Linked DNA regions of Homo sapiens. The protein of the gene in region 1 purifies or fractionates together with the protein of each later gene. This does not show direct contact. Each region holds a gene or a part of one and is shown in the gene's direction. Other genes may lie near its edges.

Region 1 (6,601 bases):
GAACAAGAAGATAACCCCAAACTCTTTTCTCAGAGAGTTTGTAGCCTAGTTTGGGATAGATAAGATCCACATATTTAGTCATATAAGACTACAGGAGAGTAGAATTGATGCACCAGATGGTGTCGAATGAAAGTGGTACTTTGTAACAGACTATAAGTGCTGTAAATTCTAAAGGACAGGTTACTTTTGCCTGGAGTGGTCAAGAAAGATTTTATTTAAAATAAGGATTTGACGGGCAGACTTAGCAGTCAAAAGGGAGAAAGCGGGTAAAACAAATGTAAGCCATCATAAGAGTGCATGTGGTTTGGAAGCATCAGGGAAAAGACTAGCCAACCTGAAGTAAAAGGTTCGTGCAAATTGGGCAATCAATAGCATTAAGTTGGAAACAGCTTGGGGACAGACACATAAGAGGGCCAGAGTGTGAATAATTTCATCTAATACTTTATAGCACTTGGACATTTACAGAGCACTTTTCTCAATTCCTAAAATACCTTGGTAAATCAAAAGCATTCTCCATTTTAAAAATGAGAATACTCTTGCCTATGGAGATGGCAACATAGCTATAATCCCACACAAAGAAAAAGACCAGTAACCTAAGTGCAGGTCTTTTGACTTCTAGTCCTGGCCATTACTCTAGTGATCCTCCAACTTTGATGAACATCAAAATCATGTTTGGAGCTTGTTTAACATCCCTGAATCCCACTCACATTCTGCTTCATTAGGCCTAGGATGGGAGTTGAGAATCTTCATTTTTATAGCTCCACAGTTACTTAATATACTTTAAAATTTGAGAAGCGTTGAGTTGAATGACAGCTGACTTCATGGCTGTCTGCGAAGTGGGGAAGCCTGAACACAGTCCTATAAACTAAAGGCCACTGCAGACTTTTAGCACAAGGAGATCCTTACAGGGAACATGTGCCATCAGCTCTTTGGAGTGAACAAGGAATTAGACCCCCATCATGCCAAAAAACTAGGATTTTTAGGTGGTCTTTCCATCCCTTCAGATTTAAGTATTCAAAGAAAGAGAGACAGACCTACATTCCAAGGGTCTTCTGAGTGCAAGGCCTTGTGTTGTTTGTTTATTTAGGGGAGGGCCTGGTGCTCTTCTCTGTTTTATGCTTTACCTTCTTTTATTTCTCAGATCTCATGTTAGCACTATGTTCTGAATTCCCTAATAATGGCTCTTGAGAACTGATTTACATTTTGTTGGTTTGTTTACTTCTTGAGCACATAAAAGGACCCCAAATTAGAGATACTATCCCTTGGGCTTCTGAAAAATGAATCAACCAAAACTGGTTGACTCTAACCTTGCCTTGCTGAGTAAAAATTCTGCTTTGGATGAGAACCTGTCTTGATTATTTTAGTGGACAACAGATAAGCCACATGGAAGTACACATGGCTCCTGATCTGTCTTTTTATTTACAGAAATCATTCTTAATCTCTACTGAGATGGCCTGTTATTTCCTTCCTTTTCTACCCTGCCACAGCAAACTCCACAGTTTCTGGGACTAACTTCCTACTACACCCCAACACAACTCCAGTCCTCTCTTCTCTTCACACTTCTAGCTGGTTAGTGGGTTTGAAGTGGTGAGACAGTGACAAAAGGGGAAGGGGAAAAATAAAAGAAGGGTAATCTGCATTCTTCCTTAGTAAGTCCCACTCCTAATTACCTTTCTACACAGCCCTGTGTCTTTGTCCCATCTTCTCTTCACTCCTGTAATATACTCCCCAGCCCCATTTTCTTAGTGCCCCTGTCTCTTGCCTCTCTAGCCATAAACCCTGTATAGAATTTCATCCCTGGGTTGGAACTAGAAGCGTCTCTGGTCCTATAGGAATATTATGTTTCTAGCTAAGTTGTAAATATGAACACATATTCCCATAGAAGTCATAATGGTATAAGTATTATAATTCAGGTATATTAGGTGTCAAATTGGCTTCTGGGATTGGAACTTACATGACTTTCTGTGTGGAAAAACCTTCTTGAGTTCACAAGAGAGAAAGGCAAATGAACAGTTGAAAAACAACTTACTCATAAGTTGAGGACTGCTTAGTTAGGCTTTTTTCATAACCCCAGCATTGGAGTTGCACACATGAGGCACTGAGGCAACTGGGATTGGAAACCTAGTTTTTTTCCTCCAGGAAACAAGGAACCCAGAGTGAGTCTGGGAGCTCTGTAGCTCTAAGTATGTGAGGCCTGTGCTCTACCTAAGTTTACCCTGCCTCCCATTTCTCACATAATGAGAATGCAAACTTGTAACCAAACCAAGGTTCAGCTGCTTGCGGCTCCAAAGCCAAAACTCGGGAGAGAAGAAAATTGGTGCGAGGAAAAGCAGATTTATTCGGAGAGCCAGCAAACTGAGACGATGGTAGACTACTGTCCTAAAGTACCATCTTAAGTCAGTACAAATGTTGGGCTCGGCTCTTTTTATGTTAAGGGCAAAGGGAAGAGGACAGAGTTGGGATGAAGAGGTGACCTATGACCACAGACATCTGGGCGCCAGCAAGAGTCCAAGGAGGTTGGGAACTTCTTTGTCATTGGTTGGGTCACAATGCTCCTGCAAATCTTCAACAAAACATAATTGTTATACATACTTCTTTAATCCCAGAGTTAGTTTTTAAAACTACATGATTGCTGTTTTTGCATATTATCTCTGCTCTAAAATTAGCCTACATGGAGGAATAGGTAAAGGGTCCTTAAACAAAAATGGAGTTAGTTATGGTAGTTCTTTTGCTGTTTCACTGTTAGAAACTCTTCTCAGTGGAGGGGACTTTACTTAGTGATGAGAACCTGTGTGAGAATGTTCTCCTTACCAAACATGCTATGCATACTCCTTATCTAATCTGATTTTATAGACTTGTTATCCAAACTGAAATTACTGTTCATAGTAACTTCAGAGCCTCTCTTTTAATCTGACTGCTCGCTGGAATGCAATCGTTGTTTTAAACTTGCCTTCTACTCCTCTGAGTGCCTTTACTTGGGGTCTTTCCAGTTCATTTTCTGCTTAATATGTTCTGTCATTGCGCACATTCCTCCATTTGCCTTTCTGCACACTACTTAATCTTTCTTATATACCTAATATTATAAAGGGACCATAAACAAAGACTCAGAACAATGGAATATGCCTATTATAGGAGGGTACAGTTCATACTTGTTTAAAAATAAATGTGGAGGCTGGGTGCAGTGGCTCACACTTATAATCCCAGCACTTTGGGAGGCCGAGGTGGGCGGATCACGAGGTCAGGAGGTTGAGACCATCTTGACAATGTGGTGAAACCCCATCTCCACTAAAAATACAAAAATTAACCAGGCGTGGTGGCACATGCCTGTAATCCCAGCTACTCGAGAGGCTGAGGCAGGAGAATCGCTTGAATCCGGGAGGTGGAGGTTGCAGTGAGCTGAGATGGCACCACTGCTCTCCCGCCTGGTGACAGAGCAAGACTCCATCTCAACAAAAATTAAAATAAAAATAAAAATACACGTGGGGGTTTTGTTCTGGTTATTTCTCATGCTTAAATACAGTTGTAGTACCAAAAAAAGGTGGAGTGACATGGAATTTCCAGGTAGGCATCAAAGAGGATTAAACTAGCTTTCCAGGATAAAGAGGAAATATAGTAGAATAAGGCTACTAATTGGAGCTAAATTGGCAATATAGGCAAATTGAAGGCCCTGAGGGGCAAATGGAGGATGTGACATGTTAGATATGGAATAGGAGTGCTACATTAGGGAATGCAGTGAAGAGAGAATGCTTTGTGATGAAGTCAGGAGTACATTTTGTGGATAACATATAGATGTGGTGTGACAGTGACAAGATCCTAGGAAACCAGAAACCTCTGAAGCATTTTATGTATGTGGATTTTGAAATAACAATAACGGGGTGGGATGGAAACGAAGAATATAAAAGCGAAGCAGGTCCAAGGTAGAAATAACGGTCATCAATTGTAGTAACAATGGCCAGATAGAAGTATCTGTTGTAAAACTTGAATGAATCATAAAGCTTGCAAATAATATTAAGAATAAGAATAAGATTGACTGGCTTGTCTTTTCTAATTGATTCAAGGTAAACAAGACATTAAGTGTTTAAGGCAAAAAGCATGGAGAGGTTGGGGAAGAGCCAAGTTTCTAAAGTAATGAAAAGTGAGGTGAGTTTCAACACGGGCTATGAATGAAAACGTAACCTGACAATCAAACTGATTCCAGAGAGTGCAGTGGGAAGTGACTGCAGAGGAAAAAAGAATGGGGCCCTCCTTCCAAAAATAAATTGTATTAAGAGGTTGCCAGAGTTTGAGGTACGAGATGAAGCTAATGAGGAAAGACAGTGGGATTGAGCAGGGCTCCAAATTGAGACATCTCAACTGTATAATGAGGTTGGTTGTAGAGACCTCTAAGATAGAAGAACTTAGACAAGTCTGCATTCCTGTATTCAGTACAGAAGTAGCCACTTTTGTTAATATACAGATTATTTGTAGAGTTGTTATAGTCAAAACAAAGCTGTTCTTATTGGCCATCTTTTGGAATTGAGAAAAGGATTTATTAATGACAATACCGCACACTTATTAGCTGCTTACTAAGGGCCAGACATTACTAAATGCTTTACTTACAACATTTCACTTTCAGCTGGGGAAACTGAAATAGATAATCTAAAGCTGCTCAAGGTCCCGAAGTTAGTATGTGGTCAGGCCAAGATTTGAACCCAAGCAGCCCAGTTCCAGAGTTCACACTTTTAACCTCTGTGATACACTTCCTCTCTTTATTTCAGTTGAACAAACCATGTGTTGCAGTGGTAATTCAGTGTCTTGAGTAATTATCTGTAAAAACTTTTTATCTCCAGTCATTATTCTGAAAAATGATTCAGAAAGTCCTGGAGTCCAAACACCTCAGGTAATAATATTATCACCCCCTCTGCATACCAAATCTTGGATGAGGTTTGGCCAGCATAAACAGCTCTACTTCTTGTTGCCTGCACAGTGAGGGTGTCACAGGAGACATTCCACTTTAAAAATGGGCTCTTTATATGAAAAGATCACCCTTCTTAGAATGATAAATCACTCTGCATTATTCTCACAGAATAAGGAATATTTGGCTGTCTAATTTAATACAGAAAGATTTAAAGATTTGTCCCCAAGTGTTGATAACCCATTATGGATCTATCTTTAATGCCAGTTTTCAAAAGTGATTTTATATTAGAAGATACTTCTTGGATTTAAAAATGCACACACACACATATATGTGATATATGATATTTTTCTTTGCTTAAGACTTACCAATTTTACAGTTCAAATGGTGACCCTCCTAACTCCACAAGGCCAGAATTTGAGCAAATGCTTGTTGTTCAACCTAGACATAATCATTCGATAGCCTTTAATTGAATCTCTTCCCAACTTTTATCCTTTAAACCGAAAAGTTATATACCACAGTCACTACAGCAGCTCATTTTATTGGAATTTCTTTGGATCCTCTCCCTCTCAAACGTTCTGTGTGCGTTTGGTAAGGAGTCCTCACACATTATTTTTTACTTGTATAGTATTTCTACATATATATATAAATGTGTAAAAAGTATGTATGAATATTTTTGTGTTGTAATTTGTATTTTACATATATATGACCTCATGTATATAATTTGATGTTGACAAAGCCAACTATGATAAGTGTTTTAAACTTTTCAGTTGATTAGCCCCCTAGCTTACATTGTAAGACCATCATTTAGAGCCAGCAGTTTTCCCTTGATTTCATCTCTTGAAGAGACAGTTGATTCTCTTCATACACGTTAAAAACACCATTTAGGTGTCAGAAACCCATCAGTCAAGGCTCCCAGAGCTTTCACCTATCATAGTTCAAGTTAATCTCTAGGGTATATGTCTGTTTGCTCCTGCCAGTCATTTTCCTAAGCCCAGTTGGCCTGCTCCTGGAAGTCCCAAGAAGGGCTCCATAGTGGAAGCCATTTGTTACTTTTGATTTATGATTACATCATCATTACTCCTCTTCAAGCTTAGTGGGCATATCTTAGTGTTTTGATCTAGTGCCTTAGTTCTGCCTACTTCAGTAACGAATTTAGGAGTAGATGTCTCCTCATTTCATCCCTGATAAAGATTGAGGCAGTTTAGGGACTCTGCAGCTTCCTCTGGCCAAATTCCCTACTTATTCCTGAGATAGGGTTTAAGAACCTGGATTCTAGAGACGGATTGCCATGGTTCGAATCTCAGTTTACTAGCTAAGTGACTTTGGGCAAGGGATTTAACCTCTCGTCCCTCAGTTTCCTCCTATGTAAAATGACAAGGATAATAGTACCAACCCAATGTAGATTAAATGAGTTTACGAAGTGTTAGAATAGTGCTTGGCACATTAGTGCTTTACAACTGCTATTTTGATTGTTGTTGTGGGCTCTCTCAAATGCATTGTCTCTAGATGCCAGTGACCCAGGTCAAAATTTACCTTTAACCAAGCTGCATGTTTCCCAGACTGCTGCACAGTCCTCCTAGCCCTGAGATAAAAGCTCCCACCCAGGTATACTTTTACTTTCCTGCTGGAGAACTGATGAGCAGTGGCCAGCAGGGGACACTTATCGCCCAAGCTGGAAAGGAGAGATTTCTTCCCTTTTGTCTC
Region 2 (7,000 bases), on another chromosome or scaffold:
TATGACACAGTCCAGAGCACCCCAGCTAGGATCAGGTGCCTCTTGTGTGTTCTCACCTCCCAGAGTTACCTCTACCTTGGCCCTTACCTAGTGTGACTTGTATCTCTGTGTTCTGTGTTCCCATCAGACCAGAGCTCTTGGAGTTAGGGTGTGGCATGGTCACTAACATGTTTCTTCCATCTGGGAGATCCAAAGAGTGAGGATGAGGACCAGAAATTCCTAGCTCCCCTCTCACCCCTACACATGGCAATAATGTAAAAAATATTCAGGCCACCCCTCAGCCTCCGACCAGTGCCTTAGGCCCATTAACTTATAACAATAATCTTCCCAGGCTGGACAATCTCCTTCATCCTTCTAGCCCCTGATGAACACCAGGCACAAATCCATGGGACCTGAATCTTAACTACAGGCAGTCGGGGCAGCCTCAAGTCTAGGCTGAGGTCCCTTAATGGGCACGTGAAGGGGGCTGCTCCCTCCCATGCCTATATCCTTCACTGCTCTCCACAGACGTGCACCTCCTCCGGGGCTCTTTTCCCCAGGCAGGACAGGCAACTCCCAACCCAGGTGTAGCGCCTGGCTGGCCGGCAGCCCACCTGTGGCTACCCTCTGCCCATGGCCTACTGGCCTCTGGCACTGTCTGAACTCAGGCATCCCCAGTGCTGCCCGTGTCGCTCAGTGGGCATCCCTACCCTGGCCTCTTCCTGCATGTCTCCCGTGGAAATTTACCCTGGAGCAGAGAGTGTCTGGGGCAGGCAGGGAGGCATGGCCCTCAGACTCACACAGGCCTCACCCTGTCATTAGAGGGCAGGTTTTCCCTCCCAAACCAGATGTACAGACCTGGATTCTGGGTCAGTGTCCACCTCACTGGCTCTGATCTTCCACCACTATAGCCTCTACAGTCACAATAGGACCACCTGTACTCCTTGGTCTCAGCCTGTCCTTCTGTCTCCTCTGCAACCCCTTGGTGACCAGAGCCGGCCAGTGTGAAGTCTCTCATCTCGCCGTTCACATGGTGTCTTTGACCCATGCATCCCAGCAGGCAGGCCTTGCTGCCTGGGCGAGGGAAGGTGGTGGCTCAGGGGCATCTTCAGGGGTGGTTTCTGATCTGGGCAGCTCTGGAACCCATATCCCCATGTCCTTGTTCATCTAGGCCCTGAGTGCATAGAGTCTGTGGCTGAACCAGGCCTGGGAATGAACTAGTGTCTCCTCTTTCCAAGAAGGTTTGTCTGGGTCACCTGCTCTGAATAGCTCTGGGAATGAGAGTCATGTCTTTGCTAAAAGCAGCAACCCAAAGGAAGGGAAAACAACACCCATGGCTCTTCCGAGGCCTCCGAGGTGTTTCGATCAGATACGACCTACTGTGAAACACCACTCAATGGGGAAGAAATATGTGAATGTTTTTTCTGCTCACTGGAGCTCATTAGATTAAGCAGAATTGAAGATAGGCATGTTGAGCTTATTGCTCTTCCATCCCAGCATCAGTGGGTTTGGAATGTTCCCAGACATCTTCAATGCTTCTCTCTCCAAGTGGTAAAACTGAAGATAAGAATTTTATTTTATTTTATTTTAAGCCTTTGAAAAATTAATCCTAAAGTAATATCTGTTTTTTAAAGACAATTTGGAAAATATAGAAAAGTAAGGGGGAGGCAGAGACAACAGAGTTCAGCCATAGTCTCATCACCCCAGCACAAGAGAACCCAACCATAGTCTCACCACTCCAGCACAACAAATGTGCAATAGGAAAACAATTTGTAATTTCCATGATCATGAACTTTGAGGTGAATTTTTAATTCCTGTTCTTCCTAACGGAATCTACGCATTTAGTTGTCTATTTGTCTGTCCTCGAACTTTTTCCCCAAAGGACTCCATGTGAGCTAAGCTAATTTGGAACACATGAAAAAATAGCAAAAGAAAATGGTGAGGGATACATGGGAATGACCCCAAGAAGCCCAGTTATCAACCTGTTCCCATGGGCAGCAATGATGATACTTGGGTTGAATATTCAGTATTAGGACTCTAGGCTCATCTACTTGTAGACTATTCTGGCTTCCATACCCAGAGAGCAACTGGGAAATAGAGTCGTTGCAAAAGGTGTCTAGTGGACTTCATTAGGGAAGCCACAGCCCAGTGGGTGTGGCCGGTACGATATCATGCCGCTGCCTCCACAGGGAGAGCTCCCAGGGAGGTGGTGTGGCCATTGCTTCCAAAGCCTCCATCACCTGCCCATACACGCCAGCTCATTGTATTGGCCTTACTCTTCCAAGAGGCCATGGAAGTATAAATAATAAAGCAAGAAAGGCAGATGCATTTGGCTGGCTCAGTGGACTTCTGAATGTACTGTGAGTATGAGACCTTCCCTTCCAAAAGATCCGGTGCTTCTTGTCTATTCCACACGAAGCTTGCTTCAGATCGAGGGAGGATGTAGCACTGTCCACAGGTGGGTGTATGAAAGGAAAATTCTAGAGGATCTCCAAAATCCAGGTAAACCCCTCTTGAAGAATTTGTTGAACATCTTTGGCAGAGTGTTATGGATGTCTACTGCCCAGTGCTTTTCTAGAGAGAGAAGCTTCATGAATGTGGGGATGGGAGAAGTCTTGGGACATAAGTGGTGCCTCCAATTTGGGTCCACCCCTGCTGCATGATGCTGGCCACAGTCATCCTTGTGTGTGAGCTGTTTGTGAATCTTTATCTCTCTCTGAGGATAGAGGCTGGATCCATCAACTCACTGGTTCATGGAGAAAGTGAGGCGAAGCAGCCTGTTCAATGCATTTCTGCAGAATTGCCTTCACCACTGATGCACACTGCAACCACAATCTCTTCCTTTGTCCACTCTGGGCCTCATTTCCCTCTTTATGGCACAGATAGTCCTGAAGTCAATGATCTCTCAGCCTTTCCAACCCACATACCCCTCCTCCTAGAATGCAGTCACGGAAGGGGAGGAGGACCAGGTCAGGCAAACAGCTGGAAGGTTCTTGAGGGTTTGGAGAAGGCTGTGGGGCTTGTTGGGCTGAGAGTCAGTCTGCAGCATCAATATGGACCATTTCCTGGGCATTGCTCTAGTGCCCCAGTGCCTGACACAGAGTGAGGACTCAAACATATTTCTTAAGGAATGAAGGCAGAAATCTACAGGGCAAATTAACAAGTGGAATGGGGACATGTTCTCCACTCTTTGTTTTCCAGAAAGGAGGAGAAAGTATATTGCTGTGGTCATCAGAGTTTGTTTATGGGGCTTCTCTTACTTCTAACAGGGGAGAGAAGATATGTCTTACCACCACTTAGTTCTAAATGTGCTTTTAAAAATAATAATTTAATTTCTGATGTATATAGAGTGATTTCTTCTTAAAGCAATATCAGTCCTTTAAAACAGGTGAGCCACAGAGCAGGCCTGAAGTGGCTCTTCAAGTGCAGGGCTCTTGTGAGGGTCTTCTGTTGGGAGGCCAAGGCACACCTTTAGCAAGGATTCCTCAGATTTCTCAGCCCAAAGAAGGGCACCGGGTTTACCCAAGTGCTGCACATTCCAAGAGGCGCTCAGAAAAGGTTCTGAGGAAAGGTGGCATCTCAGAGGGCCTGGGGTTCCTGGGGCAGGAAGGGGTTTCTGGGGCAGGAAGGGGTGTCTGGTGCATGCAGCCAAGTGTAGGAAGCATCTCCCCGATGAGGAGGCAACACACTGGTTGCCTGAAGCTCGCTCTGTTGGTTCTCAAGACATGGGAACTTGTCCAAAGCATTCTAAACTTTTTGGTCTCATTGGCTTGAGGAAGGATATTACATCAACTCTTTCTAGCCAGTCAGTTTCATCCCAGGGAAGAGAGGTAGGGTGGTCAACTATCAGGAGAGGAGTGACCTGCCTGGGGGCAGGGGGAGTTCTCTCTAAAGAAAACTGTGGTTCCAAACCACTGTGCACTGAGTAGACCTTCTGTAGCCTGTGTGTGTTATCCCTGTTTAGGTATCATTTCTTCAAACTGTGGTGATAACGGGGGAAGCGCTTTGTAAAATTAGAAATATTATTATTGTTGAGTCTGCTGTCACAGCTCACTGTTGCTTCAGTTGGCTGATCGGGACGGTGTGGGAGGTGGAAGCAGTGCCCTCCCACAGGGAAACCCCTTCTCGTGTAGACTTAAGCCGCCTATGCTACCTGTGCGGACGCTTCCCATCTGGTTTGGATCTGTCTTTAGGATGAATGACTTCCGGGTCAGTGAGGCACTATTTTATCTAGTCATAAGAGGAGGAAATTATTTTTCCAAATTAATAGGGAACATGGGAGCAGGATGATCAGAGAATTGAAATACTGACTATAGCTTCATGTGTCCCATGTGTACCCCATGGGGTTCGGTTTCTATCTTGTTCTTTTTTTTTTCTTGGTTTTGTTTTAGTTTTATCTCTTTATTTATTTTGAGTCACAGCCAAACACACACAGATACACACACACACACACACACACACACACATTCCAAACTAAAAGCCAACAAACAATTGCTCAACTCAGGAGAGCAACCTATCAATTGATTGGGAAATAACCAGTTGCTCAGCTATTTTAATTGATGGAATTAAAAAATTAGCCTACTCAGGCATCTAACCCAACTGACAAATTTGGGTCAGTTTAAAGCCCGTGATGACAGATGGAAAGGCCCGGAATGGGGCTGGTGTTGGCTGTTTGGGGGAGAAAGGCCAGATGTTCGCACTCAGGGAGCCAGGGCAGGAGGCCCGGTGGAGACTGCTGTGACACAGGCATGCTGAGGTGGGAGGGTGCTGAGACCCCACCAGGCCAGGGTGTGGGCTGTGTCCCTTGGGGCGGGGGTGGGGGGGCGGGGAGGTGGTGGCAGTGCCACCTGATCAGCAGTATCTCATGGGGGAAGAAACCAAATTATCACCACCTCCCCCTCATTTAATAGATGAAGATACTGAAAGCCTGAAGGGTGAAGAGACTTGCATCAAAACACCTAACAAACACACAAGTTGGGGAGGACCGCTATCCAGACCTGGAATTCCATAATCCGTTCTTGTTTCTGAAACTTGACAATGTTTAGGGATCAGTGACTGAACATCACTGTAAAGCTGTGCGTGCCACAGAGTGTTCCCAGGATGGTGCTTTCTGTGGGTTCCTTCCCTGCTCCAGCCCTGCCCTGCCCGGCCTCCTCCAAGGCTCCTGCCAGGCTGCTGGTTTCACCGCTGCTGAGAATGTTTTCTCAGCTCAAGGGACATGTCTTAACTTCTCCACTCCTAGGCACTGGGAACTTGCGCCCACTCTGAATAGCAGAAGCTTCTATTTTTAATCCAGGCAGCCTTTGTAAACAGTGCAGCCCCCTAAACCCTGAAATGGACTCCTTCCTATTTTCTTTTGTTTATCTGAAGCATTCTTGGGAATTTTACTAATTTCTCTTCTACAATCTGTTTTCAGCAGCCCATAGAGCCCTTGTTCATCACCAGCTGTTATTAAGTTTTACCAAGAAGTGGTTTTTGGGGGTAGAAGGTGCTTAGAGAGCACCCAGGTTCAGAGAGGGAAGTGCTTTCTGGAATGTCACACAGCTACGAAGGCATGAGAGCAGAGCACAGAACTCCTGCCTACTTAGTAGTCCTGGCGTTTTAAAAAATATGTATCTGCCCGTATTTGTGAGGATGTTTTTGGCTTCAAGGAAGTGACCATGTAACTCAACGTCACTGGGGGTCCAGAGGCAAGGTGGGCTCTGGGTTCAGCTTTTTCCATGGACCCAGCCCCGGTTTCTCTTAAGAGCCCTTGGATGCATCCTCTTTGTGCTATGGCTTTGTCTTAGAGTCACTTCCCTCACGGGGCAAAGTTGCTGTTAGTCCCTGCCTGCCGTGCCTTCCTGCCCAGGACATCCCAGGAAAGAGACAGGCCAGCACCCCAACATTCCAACAAACAGTCTTGAAATCCTCCCTCATTGCACCCCTTAAGCCACATGCCCCTCCCTAAACAAGGATCAGGGCAGAAATTCCCGCCTGCACTGATTGGATTAGGTCTGGCTCCTGAACCAACCAGTAGCAGGAGAGTTGAGATGCCCCTGCACCAATCAGGCCCTCCCTTGGAGCTGGGAGGGGCTTGTGTCCCTGAGGCACATGGGCTGCCTGAGAGAAGAGTATATTATTGAAAAGAAGAAAAAGAAAGAGAAGATGAGGAGAAGAGGATAAGAGGAGAAGAAGGCGAGGAGGGGAAGAGGAGAAGAAAGAAGAAGAGGATCTATTGGGAAGCTGGGAGAATGGATGCTGAAGGAGCAATGAGCAGTATTCACTAGAATTTTCCAATACTATACTACAAACTCCTTGAAGACCTTTGTTGTGATCAAGGCTCTATCCACAGTGCTTGGCGTAGAAGGATTTGGACATGAAGAACCTGGGAACTGGGGACACTCCTAGGTACAGGCCCTGCCTGGTGTTCATTCATCTGCTTATTCAGCCAACCAGAAAGAGCCAGGCATGGGAGTTTAGCTGTGCAGACCCCGTTGGTGGCTGACCCAGTTCCCTTTTGCTGGTGCTGCTGTGAGGGTTGCCTGCTGACAGCTCACAACTGCCCTCCCCTCTCCAGAAAATTGTCCTTGGCTGATAAGACCTAACTGACCCAGTTATGCACCATGACCTGCATCCAGAGGACAGATCACAGCCACCAACTGACCGATTCTATCCAAAAGGCCAGCCTGGAGAGCCCTCCCACTGTGGACCAGGCCAAGGCTAGATGTCACCTTGGCTCCTTCCCTTTTCCATCCCACTTCCCTCACTTCCCTACAGGGAAGACAACTGCCTCAATACATAACATGCACCTAAATCCCCATCTCAGGTTCTGCTTCTAGGGAACCCAATCTAAGACAACCATGAAAAACCTTTACTGTGGACAGGCTGACTATTACCCACAGATTACAGACATGTAAGATATAAATTACAGGAAGAAAGCAGACTAAATGATATAACAGATGACCAAGCAAAGAAATCTGCCTTCGTTTTACATATAAATGGGTGTGACCATCACTGACAGTAGTATGTCCAACCAGAG

The links. The genes of interacting proteins can lie anywhere in the genome.
Region 2: the proteins of ZSCAN12 (region 1) and SERPINA12 purify together in Homo sapiens (affinity purification with mass spectrometry; 2 studies listed by BioGRID and IntAct, with this or other methods). This does not show direct contact.

What each region holds. Positions count from the first base shown.
Region 1 is NC_000006.12:28,383,694-28,390,294, reverse strand, and holds the end of ZSCAN12 (zinc finger and SCAN domain-containing protein 12), read left to right. Parts: 3' UTR 1-4,058; coding exon of another isoform or gene 4,059-4,062; 3' UTR 4,063-5,557; downstream 5,558-6,601. UniProt on the Homo sapiens protein: May be involved in transcriptional regulation.
Region 2 is NC_000014.9:94,499,470-94,506,469, reverse strand, and holds part of SERPINA12 (serpin A12 precursor), read left to right. Parts: intron 1-2,247; exon of another isoform or gene 2,248-2,437; intron 2,438-7,000. UniProt on the Homo sapiens protein: Adipokine that modulates insulin action by specifically inhibiting its target protease KLK7 in white adipose tissues.